Linked DNA regions of Homo sapiens: region 2 is linked to region 1. Evidence: fine-mapped expression QTL. A gene starts in region 1. The other region holds a variant in brackets. All regions are shown on one strand. Distances are from middle to middle.

The links. PIP is the estimated chance that this variant, and not a neighbour inherited with it, causes the effect. A credible set is the group of variants that fine-mapping cannot tell apart.
Region 2: its variant is the best candidate, but not a certain one, in a credible set for the expression of FUT4 in tibial nerve (GTEx, PIP 0.56).

The regions. Positions count from the first base shown.
Region 1 is chr11:94,540,605-94,545,980 of GRCh38, reverse strand. It overlaps FUT4 (fucosyltransferase 4), which reads right to left and starts at 2,060. Exons shown (of 1, transcript NM_002033.4): 1 at 1-2,060. The coding sequence starts at 1,847. The coding sequence ends at 255. It overlaps PIWIL4-AS1 (PIWIL4 antisense RNA 1), which reads left to right. Exons shown (of 5, transcript NR_135093.1): 5 at 135-649. RefSeq lists an enhancer at 1-483 and a silencer at 1,303-1,872.
Region 2 is chr11:94,519,380-94,524,755 of GRCh38, reverse strand. The region is part of intron 2 of C11orf97 (chromosome 11 open reading frame 97); the gene reads right to left. Among named protein-coding and RNA genes, the nearest start is that of C11orf97, 9.6 kb to the right of the region's middle. The variant A/G (reference allele first, on the strand shown) is at 3,105.

The sequences.
Region 1 (5,376 bases):
CTCCTTCACCCCTAAACAATGATGCCCATCAGCAGCAAAGGGAGCCCAATTGCTAGCTGTGCAAAAAATATGGAAACCGGGCCCCCATCTCTGTGCTGAGTAATATTAATTGGTAAATCGTTTTTTTCCCATAGAGCAAAAATGGGTGTTTGAAGAACTTACTCCCATGATGCGGCAGTCAAGGAGATGCACAGTAGAGGATCAAAAAGCTGACAACTTGGCCTCCCCTGGGTCGCTTCCAGGGGAGCGCGGCTTCACCGCTCGAACCAGCTGGCCAAGTTCCGTATGCTCTTGGGCCGGTCCCCAGCCCTCTGTACAGCCTGGCACACCCGGCACCAAGGCTCGTCCCAGAAGGAGGTGATGTGGACAGCGTAGCTCCGGCGCCAGTGGAAGTAGCGGCGATAGACCGCGGGGTTGCGGTCGAGGAAAAGCAGGTACGAGGCCAGGGAGGAGGCACTTGGGAAGTCGTCCACGTGGATGAAGGCGCCGCGGGGCACAAAGCGCTCGTAGTTGGCACGGTCTGGGCCCAGCACCACCGGCACCGCCCCAGCGAGCAACGCGTTGCGCCAGAGCTTCTCGGTGATATAATCCAGGTGCTGCGAGTTCTCGAAAGCCAGGTAGAACTTGTAGCGGGCCACTGTGTGCAGGAGCCCAATTTCGGGCACCGGCTGCCCCGGCCCGCCCCGGCCGAACACGTCCACGGTCACATGTTGGCTCAGTTGGTGGTAGTAGCGGACCCGGGCCTGGCGCTCGTCCCAGTGGCTCACCACCCATGCCACCAGCCCCTGTTTCCTGGACAGTGGCGGGGCCAGGCCTGAGGGCGGGTCGCCGGGGTGGCTTCTGGGGTAGAGGTAGCCATAAGGCACAAAGACGTCCGAGTCCGCCCGGTAGGAGAGCGTCCAGTTGAAGAGGTTACTTGCCAGGCTTCGCAGCCCCGGGGAGTGCGAGGGCGACTCGAAGTTCATCCAAACCCAGCGCTGGCCCGGGGGCCTGGGGCTGGAGGTCGCCAGGGCTTCTGCCGCCGCCGCTGCCTCCTCGTAGTCCAACACGCGCAGATCCACCTCCTCGGCAGTGTGCGCCTGGATGCCCCAGGGCGGGGGCCAGTCGGGGGGCCCCTTCACGAGGTCGCGGTGGTGGAAAAGCACGGCCTGAGCCTCTCCGTAGGACGCGCGGTCGGTGAGCAGGCGGCAGCCGCTGATGTTGAAGCGCAGCCGGCAGTCAGGGGGCGGCCTCGGGGCGCTATCGCGCCCCCCGAAGGGCTCCCACCACAGCAGCACGCCCACCGGTCGCGACGGGGTTGGCGACGCCCAGGGCAGCGGCGGCAGCTGCCCCCAGCAAGCGTAGGTGATCAGCGCCGTACACGTCAAGCCGGCGGCCGCCAGCACACAGACGGTCCATGGCAGCCCCCGGCCTCGGCGCCACCCGCGCCGCCCGCCCGCCGCCGCCGTCGGCGAGCCCCACGGTGCCCCCATGGCGCGAACAGGCAGCGCTGCCTCCGCTCGCCACGCGTCCGCAGGCGTGGAGGAGCGGCACCGGCTCTCATGCTGTAGCTGCGGCTCCAGCCGTCGCTGCCGCTCGCCGCTGGCCCGGGAATGGAAGGGGGCGGTCCCAGAATGCAAAGGCCGCGGGCCCTGCCCTGCTCCTCCCAAGTGCCGGGCGGGGCGAGCCGCCAGGGCAAGGTGAGCTGGCCAGGACGCCCAACCGGGCACCGCCCGTCCCTTTCTTCCACTGCGCCCGGGGCCCAGCCGGCCCGACCAGGCCCCGGGAGCCTCCTGCGGCGCCTCCGCCCACTCCTTCTCCCAGCCCGCGCCCGAGGGCTTCCGGGCCGCGCCCCACAAGCGCCTCATCCGCTACTCTTGATTCTCTCTCAACTGATCCGGTTTCCCTCTGCGCGCGCCCACCGCCCTGGCCCTCGCTCACTGTGGCCCGAACCCTCGCCTTCCAGAGGGAAGGCCCGGTTCATCCCTGGGAAGGTACAGGAGGCTCGAGACCTTCTAAAGCAGCTGCCGCGCAGGAGCAGGCCCTAGAACAGACGGAAGGCGGACCCGGCGCCGCGGAACGGAGGATAGCGTCGGCTTCCTGCCGTTGGGCCTAGCCACCCGCCAGCGACGCCCGCCGGAGGGAGGGATTGAGGGAGGGAGGGAGTCCAGAGGCCGGGGGAACGTGCGAGCAGAGGCGCGGCCACCGCATCCGTGGCCAGGATCTCGTGGCCCGCCGAGACGGTCGAATTGTGGAGGCAGCCCGCAGCGGCGTGGCCTTCAGAGTCTCTGCATTTGGTGAAGAACTTAAGTTTTCAATGTGAGTGCTCATAAGAACATTTCCTTTGCCTGCCAGCCCAGTAAAGGATAGAGAACAAAATGTTTTCTTAGCAATCAAAACATGTTCTTTCCTTTGGTCCCCTACCAAATAAGTCTGACTTGCCGGCTCATAGTAGTATTGCTTGTACCAAGACGCACAGGACTCATAAACCAAAGATGAAGATGTGACCCCCCCAAGGCCCTTGTCGTCAAGGAATTTATTGCCTGTTCAGTGAGATGAATGAATGAATATCACTATTAATTTTACCAAGCACTTAAAAAACATTTTCTGCACCCATGAAAGTTATGCAAAATAGTTTGGATGATAAAATGATGACGAAGATAAATATTCTAGCACCCAAGTTAAGGGTGTAAAGACAGTATCGCACTGGCCTCTTCTACCTTATTAGGCGACACTGGAGACATCTACGTCTACAGTCACTTGAGAAATTTTTTACCTACGGGTTGAATTTGAATTTCTGGGTGTTCGCTTTGGTTTATGATATTCAACTTTTATTCAGGGGATTTCCAAATAGATCAGGGGCGGGGCTGCTGACCTAAGGAGAGGAGAAAGTTTTGAGAGAAGTTTTAGTAGATCACAGCTGTGCATCAGTGGAGTCCCACTGATACTAGGGGAGAAATAGACAGTGCTGGGAATGGGGCAATCCTGCCAGGTGTTTTTGATGTTATGCCTACAGAAAATAAATTTGCGTTAGCCATATGAATTTAAGAATGTTTTCATTAAAAATCAAGTATAGGCCAGGCGCGGTGGCTCACGCCTATACTCCCAGCACTTTGGGAGGCCGAGGCGGGCGGATCCCGAGGTCAGGAGATCGAGACCATCCTGGCTAACACGGTGAAACTCTGTCTCCACTAAAAATAAAAAAAAATTAGCCAGGCTTGGTGGCGGGCGCCTGTAGTCCCAGCTACTCGGGAAGCTGAGGCAGGAGAATGGCGTCAACCCAGGAGGCGGAGCTTGCAGTGAGCCCAGATCGCGCCACTGCACTCCAGCCTGGGCGACAAAGCGAGACTCCGTCTCGGAAAAAAAAAAAAAAAAATCAAGCATTGTGTGTAAAAGCTTCTATAAAAGTGGCTTCCGGGTGGCGCTCTCTGCAGGGCCACAGCCTCAGTTTGGAGACTAGATGGAGGATGTTAGGTGTTCTGGCTAGGCCCATCAACCTAGTAACATTTCCTCCTGCACAGTAAAACCTTTCATAATGCTTCTGGGGTTTTTTGTTTGTTTGAAAAACAGAAATTAGAAATCAAATATTTTATTTGAAATTAGACATTTCAGTGACTTTTTTCCACTCTTACTTTTAATTAAAAGAAAAAGCTATAAATGCACAAATTACTTGTTTAAACGAAATAAAGGAAAAAGTGTATTGGCTTCTCTTTTTATGCAATTCAAGAATCCAGCCATTTATTCACATTCTTCTCCCTCTTCAGTTAAATAAGACATCACAGATAGAGCCTAACATTGTGTCTGGCACGTGGCCGGTAGGCATTTGGGAAATATTACCCTGCTTGATTGCTTCCTTCCACCACTCCCGATTTTCTCTTAAGCCTCCGAATGTTCCAATTAAGCCATCTTTTTACCTGAAGAATGCCCGAGGTCTCATGCATATCAATTTTCTTTGTGCCCTCTTACCTCGGTAGGGTTGAGACCACAAACTGCCCCTACTATACCCTTATTTGATGTGGGAGGAGGGGATACTAGGTAGTAAGGTGTGTCTGGATGAATGGAAACCAGTCGTGACTTCGCAAATTGCTGGTTGAAGGTCATACGTGATCATTGTGCATCTCATACATGCACAAACATTCACAGGGGACTGGATTGTTCTTATTTTAAAAGAGCCATTGGTAGGGTAGAGGAGAAGGAAAGGGAGGAAAGGAGTTATGGGAAATTAATAAATTTACTCACTTGTTCATTTAACAAATTGGGAAACAAATGCAAAACACGGTTTCTACCTTCAAAAATCTACGAGAGAAACAGATAGTGGGGAGGGAAGGGATCATGGAAGGCTTTGAGGAGGTGGCTCCTGGAATAATTAGGAATCATTACAATGCAGAGGAAGAGGGCTGAGGTGTTAGTTGCCACAGAGGGAGCAGCACTGCAGAGGCCAGGGAGGGAAGACTGGGGCAGTAGGCGAGGAATTACTAGGGTATAGTTTGGCGAAGGAGATGGTGTTTATCCTGCAGGCTGTCGAGAAAGTCCTTGGAAGGCTTTAACAAAGGAAGGAAGCGATATTCATTTTTAAAATGAATTCTTATTTTTATTACGTATAAGGAGGGTGAGTATATGGATGGGGACACGGGGGGGCTGCGGAATGCTGACTGTTAATGTAGGCTCTGGTTAATGGGTGTGTTTGGTTATGGAAGTTCATCAAACTGTATGCTTACATATGTACTTTTATGGGTGGACATTATACTTTAGAAAAAAGTTTCTAAGAAAAAATCATTCTGTCATTAGTAAAGAGTGAGTTGGGTAAAAATAGGGTAAGAGTAGGGGTGTGGTGGTGTGCAGTTGGAAAGTTATTGCTGTAATTCAGATGTGAAATAAAGAGGGCCTGAACTGAGACAGTAGCTGTGAGGATGAGGAAGAAAATTAAAGGAGGATAGATTCAGAGAGATTTAGGAGGCTGGTTTCTTTCTCTGGGAAGCCTTTCTGGATACCCACAAACATATATCCAGGGTAGTTTACATGGCCCTCCTGTGCACTCTCACACATGCTGCACCTTTCAGAACATCATGGGACATCCAGAGATCATGACTGTTTCATTCATAATTCCATCCTGAACACCCACCACGGAACCAGGTTTCTAGTAGTGAATATTTGTTGAATGAATGTATGCCCTTAATGTATCACCGAAATTATCTGTTGGTATCTCTTTCCCCACTACAAAATGAGAAGACATCCGGAGATCTTGGCTATGTGAATGACTTGCTATGACCTTGAAATGTCCCTTAAGCTTTCAGTGGAAAATATTGTACATGTATTAAGCATAGTCCTGGCAACAGGCATCAGAAATGATATCAAATTAGACTGCTGTCATTGGCCAAACCTGGGATGAGTGCTCAT
Region 2 (5,376 bases), 21 kb after region 1:
AAAAGTTGTAAAGAAAGGAAAATCTTCAGGAAATCACTGAGAATACATGAATGATGGACATTAGCTAAATTCTTCCTTATCCAGAAAGTTCTATAAGTTGCCCAAATTCCATTCTATCTGATTAAAAGATCTGATGAGAAAACTACACTCCCTTTTTTTTTTTTTTTTTCAGGATGAGGTTAACCTTTTCAAGTAGACACAGGTTCTTTGCCCTTATCTGATAGGAATGCAGAAAGCCTCTGAAACCTGTTTTTACCTCAAATTTGAACCTGGAGGCTAAACTGAAACTGAACCTACAGAAAACTAGTAACATTTCTTTTTTTTAACTGAATAGAACACTACTTGCTACTAAATCAATTTCAAATCTCTGTTCCTCTCCGAAGGCATAATCTTATGTTTTAAAGAGAGATAGAAGAACCCAATGGCTAATAGCAACAACATCAGCTTCTGACAAACCTGCATCCAAGTATCAGTGTGACATTGGACAAGTCACTGCATCCCCCTGAGCCTCAGCTTCAAGTTCTTCAAAATGTGAATTAAAAGAGCATATATCTCACTGGGTTATTGCAAGAATTAAAAGAGATTATTTGCAAAAAATTTATCACGTGCAGAAGAAACTCTGCAAATGATAACCATTATTACTATTATTATCACCATAATTCCCAACATCAACATCATCATATAAAAAGACATCCCTACCTCTCAACCCAGCATCCAGTGCTTCTAACTCAGCCCATGTATCAACACATCAGGAGCCTACAAGGAATCAAAAGTCCACAGAAGGGAGGACAAGAGGCCTGTTAGCCCATTATTTCTATTGTCACTGATGGCATTCCCTAGACCCAAGTATAGAGTGCAAAGTAACAACCACGTGAGACACCTTGTCCATTTCAGTGTCTTCACAGCCCTTATTAACTATAGTCACAATATGACCACAAGAACAAGTAGCACAGTTCATTCAGATAAGAGCCCCAGTCTGAACAACTATTTCTCCTGTGTCCCGCTAGCTATGCAACCAACGGTATCCCAAAAGAAATATAATGTTCATTCTATTCAACATCCATAAAACTCAATTTCTGAATCTTTTGATTTTTTACCAATTTCATTCAGCCAAAGGAGAAGAGAAAAAGCACAGAAATGACCCCACAGCTTCAGGGTACTTCCATAATTGTCACTGTCAACTCATTCAAAAATAAAACGTGCTATAATTTAAGTTGTTTACTTCCAGGACAGATCGCCCTCTTAATAGACTCTTCAATAAGTTCAATAAATAGCCCAGTATTGCAGTATTTTATCTATGGTTAAGGAAAATCCAATCTGGACTCTTACTGAAATCTCACCTTCAACAATCAATTACTTTGTTGTCAGAGTATGTGGAGTTGATTGTCTTAAAATTCAAACAAACCCAGCTAATTCATACATAGCTACAAATATGCTTAGATCCATGCATATATGTTGGGGTCCCTAGAATTTAGACAGGCTTGGGAATATCTACAAAACAGTATGTAGCGTTTATCCAAAGTCACAAATTCAAATATACATAGGAAGAGGCCAGGCAGGTAATATGAGTAAAGCTGGCTAGGGGTAAGAAATAATTGGTTCTCCCAGTCTTTCTCTTTTTTACTACTTTTGATGGAGGCATCATACAAGAGAAACAATTTTTTGTATTTCACGATGAGAAGAAAAAACCTGCAGCGGGCACGTGAACATACATAGCTTGTGATGTTTCCCACTGGAGTGGGGAACTTGGTGTAGGATGCTGAACAGTGGAGTGGGCAGGTCAGCACGGGGCATTGTAACCCAACCCCAGCCACTGTTGTTAATACAAATGGTGCCTTGATGGTGTCAAATCAACCTTTATCCTCCGTGCTCCATCCCTGCTCAAGAAAACCTAGACATCTAGATTTGTATATAAAATTTCTAATTTTAAAATATTGACAACTGGTTCAGATATTTAAAAAATATACTGCGGGGCAAATAAATATGTCTGCAAGGTGAACCTGGCATATGGGTCAACATTTTGGGATCTTGAGCCAAACTAAGGTACCCCTCACAGTCTAATTCGATGTGGAACATGGTGGTCTGGTGTGGAGATAGAGGATGGCTCTCTGGATTTGCATTTGGACCATAGGCTATGCCATTCATTGAGATGGGTGGTATAGGGGAAGCAGCAAGTCGGGGAGAGGTGTCAATTGTTTTGTTTGTTTGTTTGTTTGTTTTGAGACGGAGTCTCACTCTGTTGCCCAGGCCGGAGTGCAATGGCGGATCTCGGCTCACTGCAAGCTCCACCTCCCGGGTTCACGCCATTCTCCTGCCTCAGTCTCCCGAGTAGCTGGCACTACAGGCACCCGCCACCACGCCCGGCTAATTTTTTTTGTATGTTTAGTAGAGACGAGGTTTCACCATGTTAGCCAGGATGGTCTCGATCTCCTGACCTCGTGATACGCCCGTCTCAGCCTCCTAAAGTGCTGGGATTACAGGCGTGAGCCACCATGCCCAGCCCAGAGGTGTGAGTTTTGTTTTGGACATGTTGGGCCTGAGTTATCTTATGACTTATGGGACATCCAGGAAAAGAAGTTTAGCCTGCAGAGACACATTTCAGAGGCATCCTAGAGAGGCCGTAGTGAAAAGTATGAGAAAATCCCAGGAAAGCTAATGGAACAAGATTACAAGACTGTGGGAAACACTCCGATAAACATCAAGATTCGGAGAATGTAGTGAATAAAAAGAGTGCTTAACAGAGGATGAGAAAGAAGTAGAGCGAGAACCAGGACAGTTAAGTATCATGGAATTTGAGAAAGGAACAAGGTTGAAGGAGAGAGCCATCGACTATGTGAAATGTTGCAGAAAGCTCAAGCCACCTAGAGGCAGAACAGTATCCACTGCATTTAGCCATAACGTGTCACCAGAGACACCATAGTGAGTAGAAAGCCAATGGGATTGGGGGTCAGATCTGAATTTGGATCTGGTTCTGCTACTTAATGCATAACCTTGGGCAAGTTAAACACCTCTCAGAATCTTAGTTTACTCATCCTAAGATGGGGATCAGAATATCAATATCATACAGCTTTGTGAGGATTTGGGGTAAGCAAAATTAAGCCCCT[A/G]TCCTCAGATAGCTTGTGTTCTAGTGGGAGAGATAGCCAATAAAGAAGTATGTAAAGAAATATGGATCCTCCTCGACTTACGACGGAGTTACATCCTGAAAAACCTATCATAAGTTGAAAAAAAATTGTAAGTAGTAAATGCATTTCATACACCTAACCTGCCAAACATCATAGCTTCGCCTAGCCTACCTTAAATGTGCTCAGAACACTTACATTAGAATGGCTAACTAGAAGCTGCGGCTCATGGCCACTGCCCAGCATTGCAAAGGAGAATCATAAGGCAGATCGCTAGCCCAGGAAAAGAGCAGCATTCAAAATTTGAAGTAGGGTTCCTACTGACATGTATCACTTTCACACCATCACATTGAAAAATCATAAGTTGAACCACAATAAGTTGGGGACTGTCTGCATAAAATTTCAGGTAGCAATAGAAAACAGGAGAAAGAAGAAAGCAGTATAGGGATTAGAAGGTGACCTGGAGGACAATTTCTGTTTTGACCTGGTGGAGTGGAAAGGCCTCTCTGAGAAGATGGCATATGCAGTTGAAGCCTGAATGAAGAGAGAGGAAGATATCTGAATGTCTGGGTGACCTTTAAATGTCCTGAGGGGTGAAAATGGATTTGGCACATTCCAGAATGTCAAGAAAGCCTGTGTGGTTAAAGTGGAGTGGAAAAGTATAGGAGATGAGATCAGAGAGGTGAGCTGGCCATAGGAGCATGAAATCTAGTCTCAGAATAATAAAAAGCCATCAGACAACTTTAAGCATGGAGGTGACATGTAACGATTTATGTTTGTAAAAGATCCCTCCGGTTTCAGTGCAGAGAATTAACAGTAGCAGGGGCAGTAGCAGAGGCTGTTATAGGATGCTATTGCCAGGCCTGCAAAAGGTGGCAGGGGCTTGGCAACGGTGCTGGTGGGGGATTTAGGATATACACTGAATTCAAAAGGATTGGCTGATAGACTGGATACGGAGTTTGAGGACTTGACTTCTAGGTGTTTGGTGGTACCATCTCATGATATGGGAAAGACCTATGGGTTTTTTAAAAGCCTGGGAATAGAGAATAAGATTTTGGTTCTGGACATCTTAAGGTTGAGAGGCCTATTGGACATCCAAGTGGAGAATCAAGTAGGTTTTGGGATTTAAGGGGAAAAGTATAGGGTAGAAATAAAAAATGCTGGAGTCATTAGCCCAATAGGGCTAGATATCCCACGGTGTGAGGGTAGGTAGAGAAAAGAGCCCATGACTGAGACCTCTAAATTATACAGGCTAGGTGGAGGGAGAGCCAGCAAAGAAGATGGAGAAAGAATAGCTAAAGAGGTAGGAGCAAAACCAGGAAATTGGAGCATTGTGACCTACAGGCCAAGCTAAGAAAGTGTTTTTAGAGAGAAGGAGGAAACAACTACATCAGATGTTACAGAGAGGTTGAGTATGTTGGAGGGATCATTGGATTTGACCTTCAAAAAGAAGGCTATTTGCAATCTTGGAAAGAACAGTTTCCCTGGACTCATGGGAACAAATGCCTAATTAGAATAGGTGAAGTAGCAAAGGAGAAGTAAAGGGGAGGAGAAAATGGTTAACATGTACTTATCTTTAAAAATAGCAGCTATAGGAACCACACAATTCTCTAAAAGTTTTATGCAGAATTCTGCACGTATGTGACAAACTGTGTCTTCCAGGAAAAGAAGCCATGGCTGTCATCAGATATATAAAGGAGGGGTCACTGCAAACCGAATTAGAAGCAAATGTCCAATGGCTGGCCTCTAGGCTCTGAGGCTGGGCTGGAAGAGTGTGGCACCCTCTCTAGATGCTAATTCTCTGTTCTGGCCAATGGTATGTGGCTTCTAGCCATGATATATATTTTAAAAACAGCGGGATTTCCCATAAGTAGATCATTTTAAAACCCAAATTTATAGAATCTATTCTCCGCATTGAAAGATTTTTCTAGGCTAAAATAGTACCTCTGTGCGACCTCTAGTGGATGTTATTTTAAAAAGCAGCCCAGACAGTCTTCATTTTATATAAAGGATATTTGAAAAGATTGCTTAGGAAAATGAATTTTTATAAACCAAAAGATACATCCTATTCACTCAGACTGTCTCACAATCTAGTGTATCCAATAAGAATAATACAACATACAGCTAGTGTATAAACTAGCTTTTATGTAGATTTTTAAAACAATGAAGATAAATCCAGAATATAACAGTATAGACTTAGAAAAAAATGTTAAACACCAGGAAAATAGTACATGTAGGCGGGGCTTCCCAGCTGAAA